Regions from separate parts of the Homo sapiens genome. Here region 1 is linked to region 2. A link means that fine-mapping ties the variant in region 2 to the expression of a gene that starts in the linked region. Tissue or cell type: whole blood. Region 2 holds a variant in brackets; the other region holds the start of a gene. All regions are shown on one strand. Distances are between the middles of the regions.

Region 1 (8,000 bases), 210 kb after region 2:
TCATAAGTGGGAGTTGAACAATGAGAACACATGGACACAGGGAGGGGAACATCACAGACTGGTGCCTGTTGGGGGATGGGAGGCAAGGGGAGGGAAAGCATTAGGACAAATACCTAATGCATATGGGGCTTAAAATCTAGATGACTGGTTGATGGATGCAGCAAACCACCATGGCACATGTATACCTATATAACAAACCCGAATGTTTCGCACATGTATCCCAGAACTTAAAGTATAATTAAAAAAAAAAATTGTTATTCTGCCTTTTTTGTATTAGAAATACAGTTTGGTAAATCCAGTTTACTTAAGACTTAAAACTGCTAGCTATGTATACAAAACAATAAACTATCAGAAAAGTGGCCAAAAATTAAGTAATTATTTCAACTTTTTATGACATCACTTTGGAAAATAACCTATTCCCTTTTAACTTGAGTAGTTAAAAAAGTTCTAACCTGTTTATGAAAAAAAAAAACAGAGTTAATGTGATATATATTTGATGCTACTTAGCAAAAAATTTTGGTAGTCCGACAAGTATAATTTATATATTGGAACAAACAAAACTCTGGAATACACAATCTATAACAAGCCAATTTACTACAGAGAAGGTATCCATAAATTATTTCATGCCAAAGGGTCTAATGTCAGATAAATTTTTGTTTTGTTTCGTTTTGAGACAGGGACTCATTGTCGCCCAGGCTGGAGTGCAGTAGGCAGATCTTCGCTCACTGTAACCTCCGCCTCCCAGATTCAAGCAAATCTCCTGCCTCAGCCTCCCAAGTAGCTGGGATCACAGGCATGTGCCACCACGCGCAGCTAATTTTGTATTTTTAGTAGAGGCGGGGTTTCACCGTGTTGTCCAGGCTGGTTTCGAACTCCTCACCTCAGGTGATCCACCCGCCTCGGCCTCCCAAAGTGTTAGGATTACAGGCATGAGCTACTGCACCCGGCCACACTTAGTATCCCTTGTTAAATGTTAAATTATCCCTTGTTAATTATTATCCCTTGTTAAATATTAAATTTTAAACAATTCAGTAAAAAGTTGAAATGAGTAAATATTTTGAAACAACTTTAAATGTTATGGTAGAACTCAAAAAAATCACTTAAAATGTTCTAAATGTTAAGTATATCAGTAAACTAGAAAAATGACATCTAGAAGCTAACACGCTATCTACAGAAGAATTTACTTCCACAAGTTACCCAAATAAAAGTGAAAAAAAAAAAAAGATCAAGTGATAAAGTTAATAGATGTTCATTTAAATTCAAATGAAGGAATTTTTCATTTAAAATACATCTGGCCTGATGCCTGTAATCCCAGTACTTTGGGAGGCCAAGGCGGGTGGATCACTTGAGGTCAGGAGTTCTAGACCAGCCTGACCAACATGGTGAAACCCCGTCTCTACCAAAAATATAAAAAATTAGCCAGGTACGGTGGTGCATGCCTGTAATCCCAGCTACTTGGGAGGCTGAGGCAGGAGAATCACTTGAACCCAGGAGGTGAAAGTTGCAGTGAGTGGAGATCGCGCCACTGCACTGAACTCCAGCCTGGGTGACAGAACAAGACTCCGTCTCAAAAAAAAAAAAAAAAAAAAAAAATCTGAGGACTTCAAAGGTGGAAAAAGTGCTAGAAACAAAATGAACTAACATTTTCCACAAGCCTAGTTTTGGGTCTTCAACACAGCAGTATTAGAAGATGGCTTTTACTTTGAGGTCCATGTCAAATGACAAAGTTATCATGCTTAACCAAGCGGACTGCTGAAAGGCATCACTTTTAAAACAAAGGTTTTACTTCAGTCACTTCTATTTAAAAGTTACAAATTACGACCAAGTATAGGAATCTTCCCTATGCACAATCTCAGCGCACATTTAGAACTAATGGTCATGACTGGGCGTGGTGGCTCACGCCTGTAATCCCAGCACTTTGGGAGGCCGAGGCGGGCGGATCACGAGGTAAGGAGATCGAGACCATCCTGGCTAACATTGTGAAACCCCGTCTCTACTAAAAATACAAAAAATTAGCCGGGCGCGGTGGCGGGCGCCTGTAGTCCCAGCTACTCGGGAGGCTGAGGCAGGAGAATGGTGTGAACCCAGGAGGCAGAGCTTGTAGTGAGCCGAGCTCCACTGCACTCCAGCCTGGGTGAGAGAGTGAGATTCCATCTGAAGAAAAAAAAAAAAAAAAAGAACTAATGGTCAACATGACCCACGGCAATTTTGAATACTTGGAAGAGCAGTCTAAGTACCCTCACACAAGTTAAAACCGTGTTAAGTCAGAGTCACAACTCAATGAGCCATGCACCTTTAATTTACACCTGGAAGTAAAATAGTTAAAGTGGAGAATTAGGTAGCTGATTAATCTATCCTGGGGCAAATCTTACATACTTTAATTAAAGCCTCTGAAAACACCTGATGTACAGGTTATAAAGAACAGATTCTAGACCAGTCATTCTAAGACTTATGCATGTAACACACACTTTCCAAAACTTTTTTTTTCGCTCTTGTTGCCCAGGCTGGAGTGCAATGGCGTGATCTCGGCTCACAGCAACCTCTGCCTCCCGGCTTCAAGCAATTCTCGTGCCTCAGCCTCCCAAGTAGCTGGGATCACAGGCATGTGCCACCACGCGCAGCTAATTTTGTATTTTTAGTAGAGGCGGGGTTTCACCGTGTTGTCCAGGCTGGTTTCGAACTCCTCACCTCAGGTGATCCACCCGCCTCGGCCTCCCAAAGTGCTGGGATTGAGACAGGGTCTTGCTCTCTCACCCAGGCTGGAGTGCAGTGGTGGGATCAAGGGTCACTGTAGCCTCAGCCTCCTGGGCTCAAGCGATGTTCCCACCTTAGCCTACCGAGTAGCTGGGACTACAAGTGCGCTATCACATGCAACTAATTTTTTAATTTTTTTGTGGAGACAGTGTTTCCCTTTGTTATCTAAGCTGGTCTCAAACTCCTGGGCTCAAGTGAGCCTTTCATATCAGTCTCTAAAAGTGCTGGCATTCCAGGTGTGAGGATATATTTCAAAATTACGCACAAACACGATTTTTTCACTCCCATCACTTTTCTCTTATTCCCTAGAGAACTTAATTTTTGCCAATAAGTCTTCTAAAATGTTACATTTCCTGTGGAATGCAAGAAACTAAATGCTTCATTAGCTAGTGGTGGCAATTACTATTTTTAATACTTCAAAAAAGCATTTCAATTTACTGTTCACTAGCACATTATGACATCATTCCCTTCCAGTGTTTGCTTGCTCATTAAATAATCCTGTTTCTATTTTGTTCTCTTGCCTTCAATACATAGATTGCAAATATTCCATTTCAGATGCTGCATTAATGATTCAGTGAGGCTGCTGAAAAACGCCTTTATATTTGAACGGTTTGGTAATACACTTTCTCTTATTGCGGTTGATATGGAGAGATTAATCTCTCACCAAAAGGCAAAATCTGGAGAAGATGAAATAGCAAAACTAAGGACCAATGGGAAGGGGGAGGCAAAGTCAATCGACAACCGTACCTAACAGGAGAGATTCCAAGGCTTCCATCAGATAAACAAAGGAAGCTGATTTTTCTACGGAGGCTGCATGTGCTGCAAGCTACCTGAAGCATTAGTATGCAAGCCCACTGAGCCTATTACCTTGAAAGCAGAGTCCAAGCACTGAATTTTTCTAGACTCCCATTATAGGTGGACACCCAGAAAGCCAGTGGAGACAATGATGGACGGGGAAGAGAGTGGGGCCGGTCTTCGATGCTTTCCTCCCACTCCACCAAAGCAGAAGTTAAAAACCTACAACCTACACGTATCAACCAGCTCCTCCGCTGCTCAACCATTTTTCAGGGGCAGAAGGAAGAGGTTGTGGGGGCTGGGCTTCATGTGGGGCGGGTGGGAGGAGCTGCAAAAGGAGTCAGGTTGAGAGGCGAAGGGTCGCAGGCGCTGTGGGGAGGACTGCACGACGCGAGCTGAGCACACAGAAGCAGGGCAGGGGGGCCCCGGAAGGGGCGAACGCCCGAACGGCTGGGGGCGGGGGCGGGCCCTTTCCTCACCTGGCAGCCCTTCTTGTGGTGAAATCCGACCACCACGATGTGCAGTACGGGCCCCCGGGGGACGCCATCCCCGCCTCTCCTGGCCTTCTCCATGGGCGGCCGCCGCGGGCCCGCACGACGACTTCGACCGCCAAGGGCAGCGGGTCTGACGACCCCACCGTGTGCGGAAAGCCGCGGACTTCGGGTGTCAGCGAGCACAGCACATGAGGGCCGCACAGGGAGATCGGTGGAGGCAAAGCAGCTCCCGCCGCCCCCAGGGCCACGGCCGCCCTTCCCTCATCCGCTTCCGCAGCTTCCGGGCTGTCACCTGACACGGCGGCCGCCGCCGGCGAGGCAGGGCTGGGCAAGGCCGGGAGGGCCCTGACGGGGCGGGGTCTGAGAGGCCGAGGTGGAGCCTGGGGGAGCGGGGTGGGTCTAGGAGAGGAGAGATCGACTCTGTGGGGCGGGGAGGAGCGGGGGGAGGAGCGGGGGGAGGGCGGGTCCGGGTGGGACTTGACGAGGAGCGGCGGGGTGGGGCTTACGTGACCCGGGCGGCTGGGCTTGCAGAGCCTGTGGTGTCCGCGGGACCTGGAGGTGCGGCGTGGCACACCTGCTTTTTCCTCCCTGGATTCAATCTCAAAGCACTTCCTTCTCTTTTGCCTTCTCTTTTTCCTCAAAGTTTTCCCACTTCCCTCTTCTCTTCTGTTTTCCTTGCTTTTTCACATCTTTTCGGTTCACTCTCCGAGTGTCCGATTCCTTCACCTCCTTGCCTTTGCCTCTGTGGCCCCCGTCCTTATTCTTAAATATGTAGTAACATGGAGCATACTGGTGAGGTTGCGTATCTGTGTATTCAGCCTTTAAATTACTTGCTTACTCGAGAATTCTTGTTTGTTTCTTTCTAGAGTTTTTTTTTCTTCGTTTAAATATTATGTGTAGGAATCTGAGACGCATTTAAAACCTGAAACAGAATATCCTTGACAACAAAGGAAGTTTACTTGGATACGTGTAAAATGATTATTCTAGTCCTGCGATTTTATAAGAATATTCTTTTCATTCCATCTCATTTTGGGTGTAGTACTCTGGTCAATACAAAATATATGGGCTCTGTTGTCACCAGGGTTTTTTAATTCCTTTACTGATTGTACTACAATTCTTTTTTAAGCAGTGAATCTCATGTCAATTTAAAGTGCATTATAGAAAAGATTTAACAAGTCTTATCTAGGACAGTTTTCAAATAACCTAAAGGATAGGTGTCTGCTTCAAATAGAATTCGAGATTACTACAGTAACTGTGATATTTTGCACTTCTGGTCTTGAAAAGTAAGGAGCTCTGTTCTAATCTAACCATAGCTGAGAAAAACAGTAGGCTTCCTAAATCAAATTTAGTTTCTGTGATTCAGTAGAACTGTTTTAATGCTAATACTGCAGACATTTTTCAAGATGCTGCTATACATTTCTTTTCTGTATTACAAAATTATTGGCATTGGCTAAGAAAACTGTGTAAAACTATATTGCTCCCTGTATGCAGAATATATTAACTGTTTTCTTAATATATTAACTGTTTTGAGCTGTCAGCTGTGTGATGTGTTAACTATTAATATTTTCTTGATATAACCTGTCTTGATATTTTCCACAATTGGCATGGCTAAAATTACTGTCTAATTGAACACCTTTTAAAGATGTATATAAGGGCCGGGTGTGGTGGCTCACGCCTGTAATCCCAGCACTTTGGGAGGCCAAGGCAGGCAGATCACCTGAGGTCAGGAGTTCTAGACCAGCCTGGCCAACATGGTAAAACCCCCTCTCTAGTACAAAATACAAAAATTAGACCTGTAATCCCAGCTACTCGGACGGCTGAGACAGGAGAATTGCTTGAATCCGGGAGGTGGAGGTTGCAGTGAGCCAAGATTGCACCATCGCACTTCAGCCTGGGGGACAAGAGCGAGATTTCCTCTAAAAAAAAAAAAGATATATATAAAAAGAGGGTCAGGCGTGGTGGCTCATGCTGGTAATCCCAGCACTTTGGGAGGCCGATGCGGGCAGATCACTTGAGGCCAAAAGTTGGAGACCAGCCTGGGCAACATGGTGAAACCCCATCTCTGCTAAAAATGCAAAAATTAGCCAGGCATGGTGGTGTGTGTAATCCCAGCTACTAGGGAGGCTGAGGCAAGAGAATCACCCTAACCCGGGAGGTGGAGGTTGCAGTGATCTGAGATGGTGTCACTGCACTGCTCTCCAGCCCAGATGACAGAATGAGACTCCATCTCAAAAAAATAAAGAAAGGGAGAGAGAGAGAAAGAAAAAGTTAGTTACTGGGAAAATTGAGACAGAAAGTGAACAAGGGAATTTCCAGGATTTTTTTCATCTCTAAATACACAGACTGGACCACTTAAGAATTTAGAATATAGGTGGGGCATGGCGGCTCACACCTGTAATCTCAGCACTTTGGGAGGCCAGGGTGGGTAGATCACTTGAGTCCAAGAGTTCGAGACCAACCTGAGCAATGTAATGAGACCTCATCTCTACAAAAAATAATAAAAAATAAATAGCCAGACTTGGTAGCACGCGCCTGTGGTACTGGCTTCTCAGGAGGCTGAGATGGGAGGATTGCTTGAGTCCGCGAGCACACCACTGTACTCCTGCCTGGGTAACAGAGTGAGGTCTTGTCTCTAAATTAATAAATAAAATATGATGGGGTGTTGCTATGTTGCCCAGGCTGGCCTCAAACTCTTGGGCTCAAGGGATCCTCCTGCCTCAGCCTCCTAAGTAGCTGGGGCTACAGTTGCCTGCCACCATGCACATCTTACATTATGTTTTAAATGAGTTGTATTAATGTAGAATAAATTCATTAACAAGATATTGTCCACAAGGACAAATGTCTATTGGGAAAATAATAAAATTTCTAATTTAACTCGAGGGAGAAAATTAGAAATGCCTTTCTGAACATATAATACATGGAAGAGCCTTTGGTAGTTACATGTATTTTATGATAAATTATAAATTCTATTTTACGTCTTCTACTTAAGACTTAAAGGGAGAAAAATCCTTGAGACATAGAGCTATGACATATTTTCAAGTTCATAACAACTCTCCATTTGGAATTGGCCTGTTCTTCCTTTTTGTGTCTTGCCTCAGGAGAGAAAATAATAAAAATACCACTCCCTGAAATCCCCATTAACTCTACTATGTAAGTGAACTATATATCGTTCCTTTTTTCAGATTCTAAAGAGATTTTCTTTATTCTTTATTAGTGGCATTCAAAATTGCTAATGTTTATTCTGTTTTTTTTTTGTTGTTGTTGTTTTGAGATGGAGTCTCACTCCGTCGCCAGGCTGGAGTGCAGTGGCACGATTGGCTCACTGCAACCTCTGCCTCCCAGGTTCAAGCGATTCTCCTGCCTCAGCCTCCTGAGTACCTGGGACTACAGGCGTGTGCCACCACACCTAGCTAATTTTTGTATTCTTAGTAGAGATGGGGTTTCACCATGTTGGCCAGGATGGTCTTCATGTCTTGACCTCGTGATCCGCCCACCTCGGCCCCCAAAGTGTTGGGATTATAGGCGTGAGCCACTGTGCCCAGCCTATTTTTCTAATTTTTAAAAACTCTATCAAATAACAACAATGTTTTGAATTCTCCCATACTGTCAGTATGGTATGGGGAAAATAAAATAGGAATAGAAAAGGAAAACCAGGAAAAGAGGTGGTTTTCAACCAAATGAGGATTGGACAAAAAGAAAAAAAGAGAAAGAGAAAGAAAGAAGCGTCACAAACAAATCTGGCATTACTTCGTATTTAAAATCTTATGAAGAGTAAGGAGAATGTTGATGGGTGTGAATGAAATAGTGAGAATCAATTTAAAGAATATTCATTAGGCGCCCTACAGTGTGCCTGAAAATGTAGTGTGCACAGTGTATAAAATAAGAAATTGCTTCCTTAAAGTGGCTTATGTCTGGTTATAAAAATAAGATGAATGCAAAACCAGCTAGCAATGCTAG
Region 2 (8,264 bases):
ATATTGAGAGGATAAGTCTGGAAATGTTACAAGTTGAGGAGGTAGGTTCCTACCCACAATACAAGAGAACAAAATGTAAGGAGTTGCTATTTTCTTCTTGTTGGAGGCATTCTCCCATCCTTTATGGTGAAAATATAGAAAGATTTGTCCAGTAAGTTGTTGAATGAATGACATGATGCTTTTTTTGTCTTTTTATTATTCTTTATTGGTTCTACCAATTTGACTCTTTACCCAGGCCACCTGTTGTTAGGCATGCAGGCTTTGTAGAAATTCACATATCGACATTACACTTGTAATATATAATTCTTTCACTTCAGAAAAATTGAGCAATTTAATACAACTCAAAAGAAGGTCAGAATTTCAGTTGCAAACTATTGAAAAATGACAGTAAGTAGAAGAGTGTCCATAAACATCAAAAAAATTCTGCCAAGGCTGCACTCAAAGGAAAATTTACTGTCTTCATTTTCAAGAATATTTTCAGTAGTAGACTGGAAAGAACATGAATTGACTAAGTTTTAAATTCAAGAATATCAAAGAAACAAAAAATCTAAGGAGAGAAAAGTTGAGATTTAACCAAATGTTCAGCTTACATGTTTTTTAAGCCTTCCTAGGTATTATTTTCTGTTTCTAGCTCTGTATGTCTTTGGCAAAGGTAAGTATTTATTACACACAACCTGCACAAGGTATTTTTAGATCTAAGTGATTCAGTTTAGAGTTTAACATCAATAGAAGCAAATTCACTGTTTAATGGGAGACTCCAGTTTTTGGTGGCAAGGTAATTATTGAATTGAGCTCATATGAAATTTACAAAGGGGAACTTTGTGTGTGCCATGAGGCATAAGAATCATTACAAGAAGGGAAATGGAACCTCCAAGATAATCTAAAGCTCAGTACTAAGGCCAGATGAGGATAGTTTGAGAAAGGATATTCTTATTTGTGAGCATAGATTCAAAATTTCACCTAGATTAAAAGCATTCCTTACACACAAAAGTATAAAAGATTAGTAACTCAAGAACAGCCATATATATGATAAAGATAATCCACTTGTGATAAATCTGGCTTATTCTAGGAATCCAAAGACATTTCTGGAAAATCCAAAAATGTAAGTTATCACACTAACAGATTAAAAGAGAAAAAATCTTATGATCATCCCATTAGATGCAGAAAATAAAATTGATAAAATTGAACATCCATTTATAATGAAAACATGTAACACAATAGAAATAACAGTTTTCTCAACCCAGTAAAATTCTTCAGCAGTCATTAGTCTTACTGATAATAAAGTATTTAGAGTGTTCTGTTTAAAATCAAGATAAAGATAAATGTGCTTTTTCACATTTTATTAAAGTCCAGGCCGGGTGCGGTGGCTCACGCCTGTAATCCCAGCACTTTGGGAGGCCGAGGCGGGTGGATCATGAGGTCAGGAGATCGAGACCATCCTGGCTAACAAGGTGAAACCCCGTCTCTACTAAAAATACAAAAAATTAGCCGGGCGCGGTGGTGGGCGCCTGTAGTCCCAGCTACTCGGGAGGCTGAGGCAGGAGAATGGCGTGAACCCGGGAAGCGGAGCTTGCAGTGAGCCGAGATTGCGCCACTGCAGTCCGCAGTCCGCAGTCCGGCCTGGGCGACAGAGCGAGACTCCGTCTCAAAAGAAAAAAATAAAAAATAAAAAAAAATAAAGTCCAAACTAGCCTAGTAATGCAAGAAAAGTAAATAATAGGAAAAGGAAAGAAACAGAAAGAAGGAAAATTTATTATAGTATCAATATTTACCTAGAAAGAATAAAATAATTGACAACTTATTAGGAATTAGAAGAATTCAATACCATGGCTAGATATGTTTAATATTCAAAAATCAATTGCATTTTTATTCTTTGGCAACAAACAGAAAACATATTTTTTAAAAATATGCCTTATGTATTAGGAAGAAAAATGCATAGGATCTGAATGAATCTAACAAAATACATATAGTATTTGTATGAAAATTTATTTTAATAATTCTAAGACATAAATAGAAAAATAAAACACATTTATGTGTATGAAGTTTCATGTAATGCAGTTCTCCCCAGCTGATGTTCAGATTCAAAGCAATTTCAGCAAGATTGTCTTGCAGGTCACTTTTCACTAAATGATGCTGGAATAGTCTATCTATATGAGAAAAACCATATGTTATACACAAATATCAGTTCTGGGCCTAGCCGTTTTGAATGTTCCTAAGCTGGATGTCTCTTTGACATGTCTTTATAAATTTATAATGCTCCAGGCTTTTCTTGATTTTCCTTGTGCTAGCCTTGGAATCAGCCATTTTTTCCAAGGAGCCCTGGTTCCTTTTAGAGGAGAATGGTATTTGGAAACCAAGACCTGAGTGGTATGTGCACTTATTACTACCAGTGTGTCCTTGTTTCTAGGCCCTTTCACTGCACGTATGTGCACACGTGTGTGTGTGTATGAAATCATGATTTCATAACTGTAGCTCCAATCCCAGCCCAATGCTATATAGAAAGGCAGACTAGTTAGGTACCTCAGAACTCACAGAAAAACACCACAGGCTGCCACCTCCTGAAACTCCATCCAGTGGCAGAAGACAATCAGAAAGAGGGTCCAGGGAAATGCTCTCCATCCTGTGGGTCTGGTATCTACTATTCCCTCCAGGGAGGCTGCCCATGCAGGTAGCAGCAGCGGAGATCTAACAGGTGCCCTGCTAGGACTAGGCACCCTAGGAAAGAGCCCTCTGCCCTCTGCCAACCCCCTACCCCACAGTCTGGTGTCTCTCACCCTCTATCCCATGGCAACAGGACATGGGAAATACATTCTTCCTGCATCGGCAGCATGATTTGGGGTGGAGACGGAGCACCAGGGCACCAGATGAATCAAGCTGACCACAATAGCACTAGCATTGCAAAGACTCTGAAAACTAAACTGTCATTGTAACTATAGCACACAGAAGTAGGCCAGGACTTGCGTGATAAACCTAAAAACAAAATGACTGTCTGCTGAAATAGAAATTTAAGATAGGATCCACAGTCTCTAACATAATATAAAAAATGTACTGGACACAATAGAAAAACCACTCATCATAGCAAGAATGGAGAAAACAACTTGAATGAGAAAAGACAACAAATGTCAACACTGAGATGAATAGGATGTGGGGATTATTCGACAAGGGTTTTAAAGCAGTCATCATAAAAACACTTCAATGAGCAGTTTTAAATACTCTGGAAGCAAATGAAAAGGCTATAAAATCTCACCACAGAATTTTTTTTTTTTTTAAAGAACAACTTGGTGATTATAGAACTGAAAAATACAATAACTAAAATTAAAATTCAGTAAATGGACTTGGTAGCGGAGTGAATATTACTGAGGAAGCAGTCACTGCTCTTGCAGATAGAACAATAGAAATCTCCCAATGTAAATTGAGAGAAAATCACAGGAAAAAGGACAGAGCCTCCGGGACCTATGGTGTAGTAACAAAAGATTTAATATTTGTATCATCAAAATTTCAGAAGGAATGGAAAAAGAG[AGT/T]GGGGCTGAATAGTATTTTAAGAAGTAATTGCTAAAAACTCCCCAAATTTGGTGAAAGACACACCTGCAGAGTGAAGACACTGAGCCATTCCCAAGTAAGACAAACCCAGAGAAATCCATGCCAAGATACATTATAAGTTAACTTTTAAAACGAAAAGAAAAAATCTTGAAAGCAGGTACGGAGAAATGACACATCACCTACAGGCAAAACTGACTTGAATTGTAGCAGACTTCTCATGTGAAATTAAGGAGGCCAGAAGGTTGTGGCAGAACATTGTCAAGATGAATTACATATCCAGTGGATGTTTCCCTTAGGAATGAAGGGGAAATAGACATTCTCCAATCAAGGAAAATTAAAATAATTTGTGGCTAGCAGAGAACCTTAAAGAATGGTTAAGGGGGAGGAGCCAAGATGGCCGAATAGGAACAGCTCCAGTCTACAGCTCCCAGCGTGAGCGACGCAGAAGACGGGTGATTTCTGCATTTCCATCTGAGGTACCGAGTGCATCTCACTAGGGAGTGCCAGACAGTGGGCGCAGGACAGTGGGTGCAGCATACCGTGCGCGAGCCGAAGCAGGGCGAGGCCTTGCCTCACTCGGGAAGCGCAAGGGGTCAGAGAGTTCCCTTTCCTAGTCAAAGAAAGGGGTGACAGATGGCACCTGGAAAATCAGGTCACTCCCACCCTAATACTGCGCTTTGCCGACGGGCTAAAAAAACGGTGCACCACGAGATTACATCCCGCACCTGGCTCGGAGGGTCCTACGCCCACGGAGTCTCGCTGATTGCTAGCACAGCAGTCTGAGATCAAACTGCAAGGCAGCAGCGAGGCTGGGGGAGGGGCGCCCGCCATTGCCCAGGCTTGCTTAGGTAAACAAAGCAGCCGGGAAGCTCGAACTGGGTGGAGCCCACCACAGCTCAAGGAGGCCTGCCTGCCTCTATAGGCTCCACCTCTGGGGGCAGGGCACAGACAAACAAAAAGACAGCAGTAACCTCTGCAGACTTAAATATCCCTGTCTGACAGCTTTGAAGAGAGCAGTGGTTCTCCCAGCACGCAGCTGGAGATCTGAGAAGAGGCAGACTGCCTCCTCAAGTGGGTCCCTGACCACCCAGCAACCTAACTGGGAGGCACCCCCAGCAGGGGCACACTGACACCTCACACAGCAGGTTATTCCAACAGACCTGCAGCTGAGGGTCCTGTCTGTTAGAAGGAAAACTAACAAAGAGAAAGGACATCCACACTGAAAACCCATCTGTACATCACCATCATCAAAGACCAAAAGTAGATAAAACCACAAAGATGGGGAAAAAACAGAACAGAAAAACTGGAAACTCTAAAACGCAGAGCGTCTCTCCTCCTCCAAAGGAACGCAGTTCCTCACCAGCAACAGAACAAAGCTGGATGGAGAATGACTTTGACGAGCTGAGAGAAGAAGGCTTCAGACGATCAAATTACTCTGAGCTACGGGAGGACATTCAAACCAAAGGCAAAGAAGTTGAAAACTTTGAACAAAATTTAGAAGAATGTATAACTAGAATAACCAATACAGAGAAGTGCTTAAAGGAGCTGATGGAGCTGAAAACCAAGGCTCGAGAACTACGTGAAGAATGCAGAAGCCTCAGGAGCTGATGTGATCAACTGGAAGAAAGGATATAAGCAATGGAAGATGAAATGAATGAAATGAAACGAGAAGGGAAGTTTAGAGAAAAAAGAATAAAAAGAAATGAGCAAAACCTCCAAGAAATATGGGACTATGTGAAAAGACCAAATCTACGTCTGATTGGTGTACCTGAAAGTGATGAGGAGAATGGAACCAAGTTGGAAAACACTCTGCAGGATATTATCCAGGAGAACTTCCCCAATCTAGCAAGGCAGGCCAACGTTCAGATTCAGGAAAGACAGAGAATGCCACAAAGATACTCCTCAAGAAGAGCAACTCCAAGACACATAATTGTCAGATTCACCAAAGTTGAAATGAAGGAAAAAATGTTAAGGGCAGCCAGAGAGAAAGGTCCGGTTACCCTCAAAGGGAAGCCCATCAGACTAACAGTGGATCTCTCGGCAGAAACCCTACAAGCCAGAAGAGAGTGGGGGCCAATATTCAACATTCTTAAAGAAAAGAATTTTCAACCCAGAATTTCATATCCAGTGAAACTAAGCTTCATAAGTGAAGGAGAAATAAAATACTTTACAGACAAGCAAATGCTGACCGATTTTGTCACCACCAGGCCTGCCCTAAAAGAGCTCCTGAAGGAAGCGCTAAACATGGAAAGGAACAACCGGTACCAGCAGCTGCAAAATCATGCCAAAATTTAAAGACCATCGAGACTAGGAAGAAACTGCATCAACTAACGAGCAAAATCCCCAGCTATCATCATAATGAGAGGATCAAATTCACACATAACAATATTAACTAAATATAAATGGACTAAATTCTCCAATTAAAAGACACAGACTGGCAAATTGGATAAAGAGTCAAGATCCATCAGTGTGCTGTATTCAGGAAACCCATCTCACGTGCAGAGACACACATAGGCTCAAAATAAAAGGATGGAGGAAGATCTACCAAGCAAATGGAAAACAAAAAAAGGCAGGGGTTGCAATCCTAGTCTCTGATAAAACAGACTTTAAACCAACAAAGATCAAAAGAGACAAGGCCATTACATAATGGTAAAGGGATCAATTCAACAAGAAGAGCTAACTATCCTAAATATATATGCACCCAATACAGGAGCACCCAGATTCATAAAGCAAGTCCTGAGTGACCTACAAAGAGACTTAGACTCCCACACAATAATAATGGGAGACTTTAACACCCCACTGTCAACATTAGATCAATGAGACAGAAAGTCAACAAGGATACCCAGGAATTGAACTCAGCTCTGCACCAAGCAGACCTAATAGACATCTACAGAACTCTCCACCCCAAATCAACAGAATATACATTTTTTTCAGCACCACACCACACCTATTCCAAAATTGACCACATAGTTGGAAGTAAAGCTCTCCTCAGCAAATGTAAAATAACAGAAATTATAACAAACTATCTCTCAGACCACAGTGCAATCAAACTAGAACTCAGGATTAAGAATCCCACTCAAAGCCGCTCAACTACATGGAAACTGAACAACCTGCCCCTGAATGACTACTGGGTACATAACGAAATGAAGGCAGAAATAAAGATGTTCTTTGAAACCAACGAGAACAAAGACACAACATACCAGAATCTCTGGGACACATTCAAAGCAGTGTGTAGAGGGAAATTTATAGCACTAAATGCCCACAAGAGAAAGCAGGAAAGATCCAAAATTGACACCCTAACATCACAATTAAAAGAACTAGAAAAGCAAGAGCAAACACATTCAAAAGCTAGCAGGAGGCAAGAAATAACTAAAATCAGAGCAGAACTGAAGGAAATAGAGACACAAAAAACCCTTCAAAAAATCAATGAATCCAGGAGCTGGTTTTTTGAAAGGATCAACAAAATTGATAGACCGCTAGCAAGACTAATAAAGAAAAAAAGAGAGAAGAATCAAATAGACACGATAAAAAATGATAAAGGGGATATCACCACTGATCCCACAGAAATACAAACTACCATCAGAGAATACTACAAACACCTCTACGCAAATAAACTAGAAAATCTAGAAGAAATGGATAAATTCCTCGACACATACACCCTCCCAAGACTAAACCAGGAAGAAGTTGAATCTCTGAATAGACCAATAACAGGAGCTGAAGTTGTGGCAATAATCAATAGTTTACCAACCAAAAAGAGTCCAGGACCAGGTGGATTCACAGCCGAATCCTACCACAGGTACAAGGAGGAACTGGTACCATTCCTTCTGAAACTATTCCAATCAATAGAAAAAGAGGGAATCCTCCCTAACTCATTTTCTGAGGCCAGCATCATTCTGATACCAAAGCCGGGCTGAGTCACAACCAAAAAAGAGAATTTTAGACCAATATCCTTGATGAACATTGATGCAAAAATCCTCAATAAAATACTGGGAGCCAAAGACAAAAACCACATGATTATCTCAATAGATGCAGAAAAAGCCTTTGACAAAATTCAACAACCCTTCATGCTAAAAACTCTCAATAAATTAGGTATTGATGGGACGTATTTCAAAATAATAAGAGCTATCTATGACCAACCCACAGCCAATATCATACTGAATGGGCAAAAACTGGAAGCATTCCCTTTGAAAACTGGCACAAGACAGGGATGCCCTCTCTCACCACTCCTATTCAACATAGTGTTGGAAGTTCTGGCCAGGGCAATTAGGCAGGAGAAGGAAATAAAGAGTATTCAATTAGGAAAAGAGGAAGCGAAATTGTCCCTGTTTGCAGACAAAATGATTGTATATCTAGAAAACCCCATTGTCTCAGCCCAAAATCTCCTTAAGCTGATAAGCAACTTCAGCAAAGTCTCAGGATACAAAATCAATGTACAAAAATCACAAGCATTCTTATACACCAACAACAGACAAACAGAGAGCCAAATCATGAGTGAACTCCCATTCACAATTGCTTCAAAGAGAATAAAATACCTAGGAATCCAACTTACAAGGGATGTGAAGGACCTCTTCAAGCAGAACTACAAACCACTGCTCAAGGAAATAAAAGAGGATACAAACAAATGGAAGAATATTCCATGCTCATGGGTAGGAAGAATCAATATCGTGAAAATGGCCATACTGCCCAAGGTAATTTACAGATTCAATGCCATCCCCATCAAGCTA

What was found. PIP is the estimated chance that this variant, and not a neighbour inherited with it, causes the effect.
Region 1: AVL9 starts here. The variant in region 2 is fine-mapped to the expression of AVL9 in whole blood (INTERVAL, PIP above 0.99).

What each region holds. Positions count from the first base shown.
Region 1 is chr7:32,491,831-32,499,830 of GRCh38, reverse strand. AVL9 (AVL9 cell migration associated) reads right to left here and starts at 4,342. Exons shown (of 16, transcript NM_015060.3): 1 at 4,029-4,342. The coding sequence starts at 4,121. It also overlaps a transcript of LSM5 not described here. RefSeq lists enhancers at 2,948-3,746, 3,747-4,545, 4,619-4,828 and a silencer at 3,879-4,528.
Region 2 is chr7:32,699,200-32,707,463 of GRCh38, reverse strand. It overlaps the pseudogene DPY19L1P1. Among named protein-coding and RNA genes, the nearest start is that of MIR550A2, 30 kb to the left of the region's middle. RefSeq lists enhancers at 3,753-4,253, 4,254-4,754. The variant AGT/T (reference allele first, on the strand shown) is at 3,520.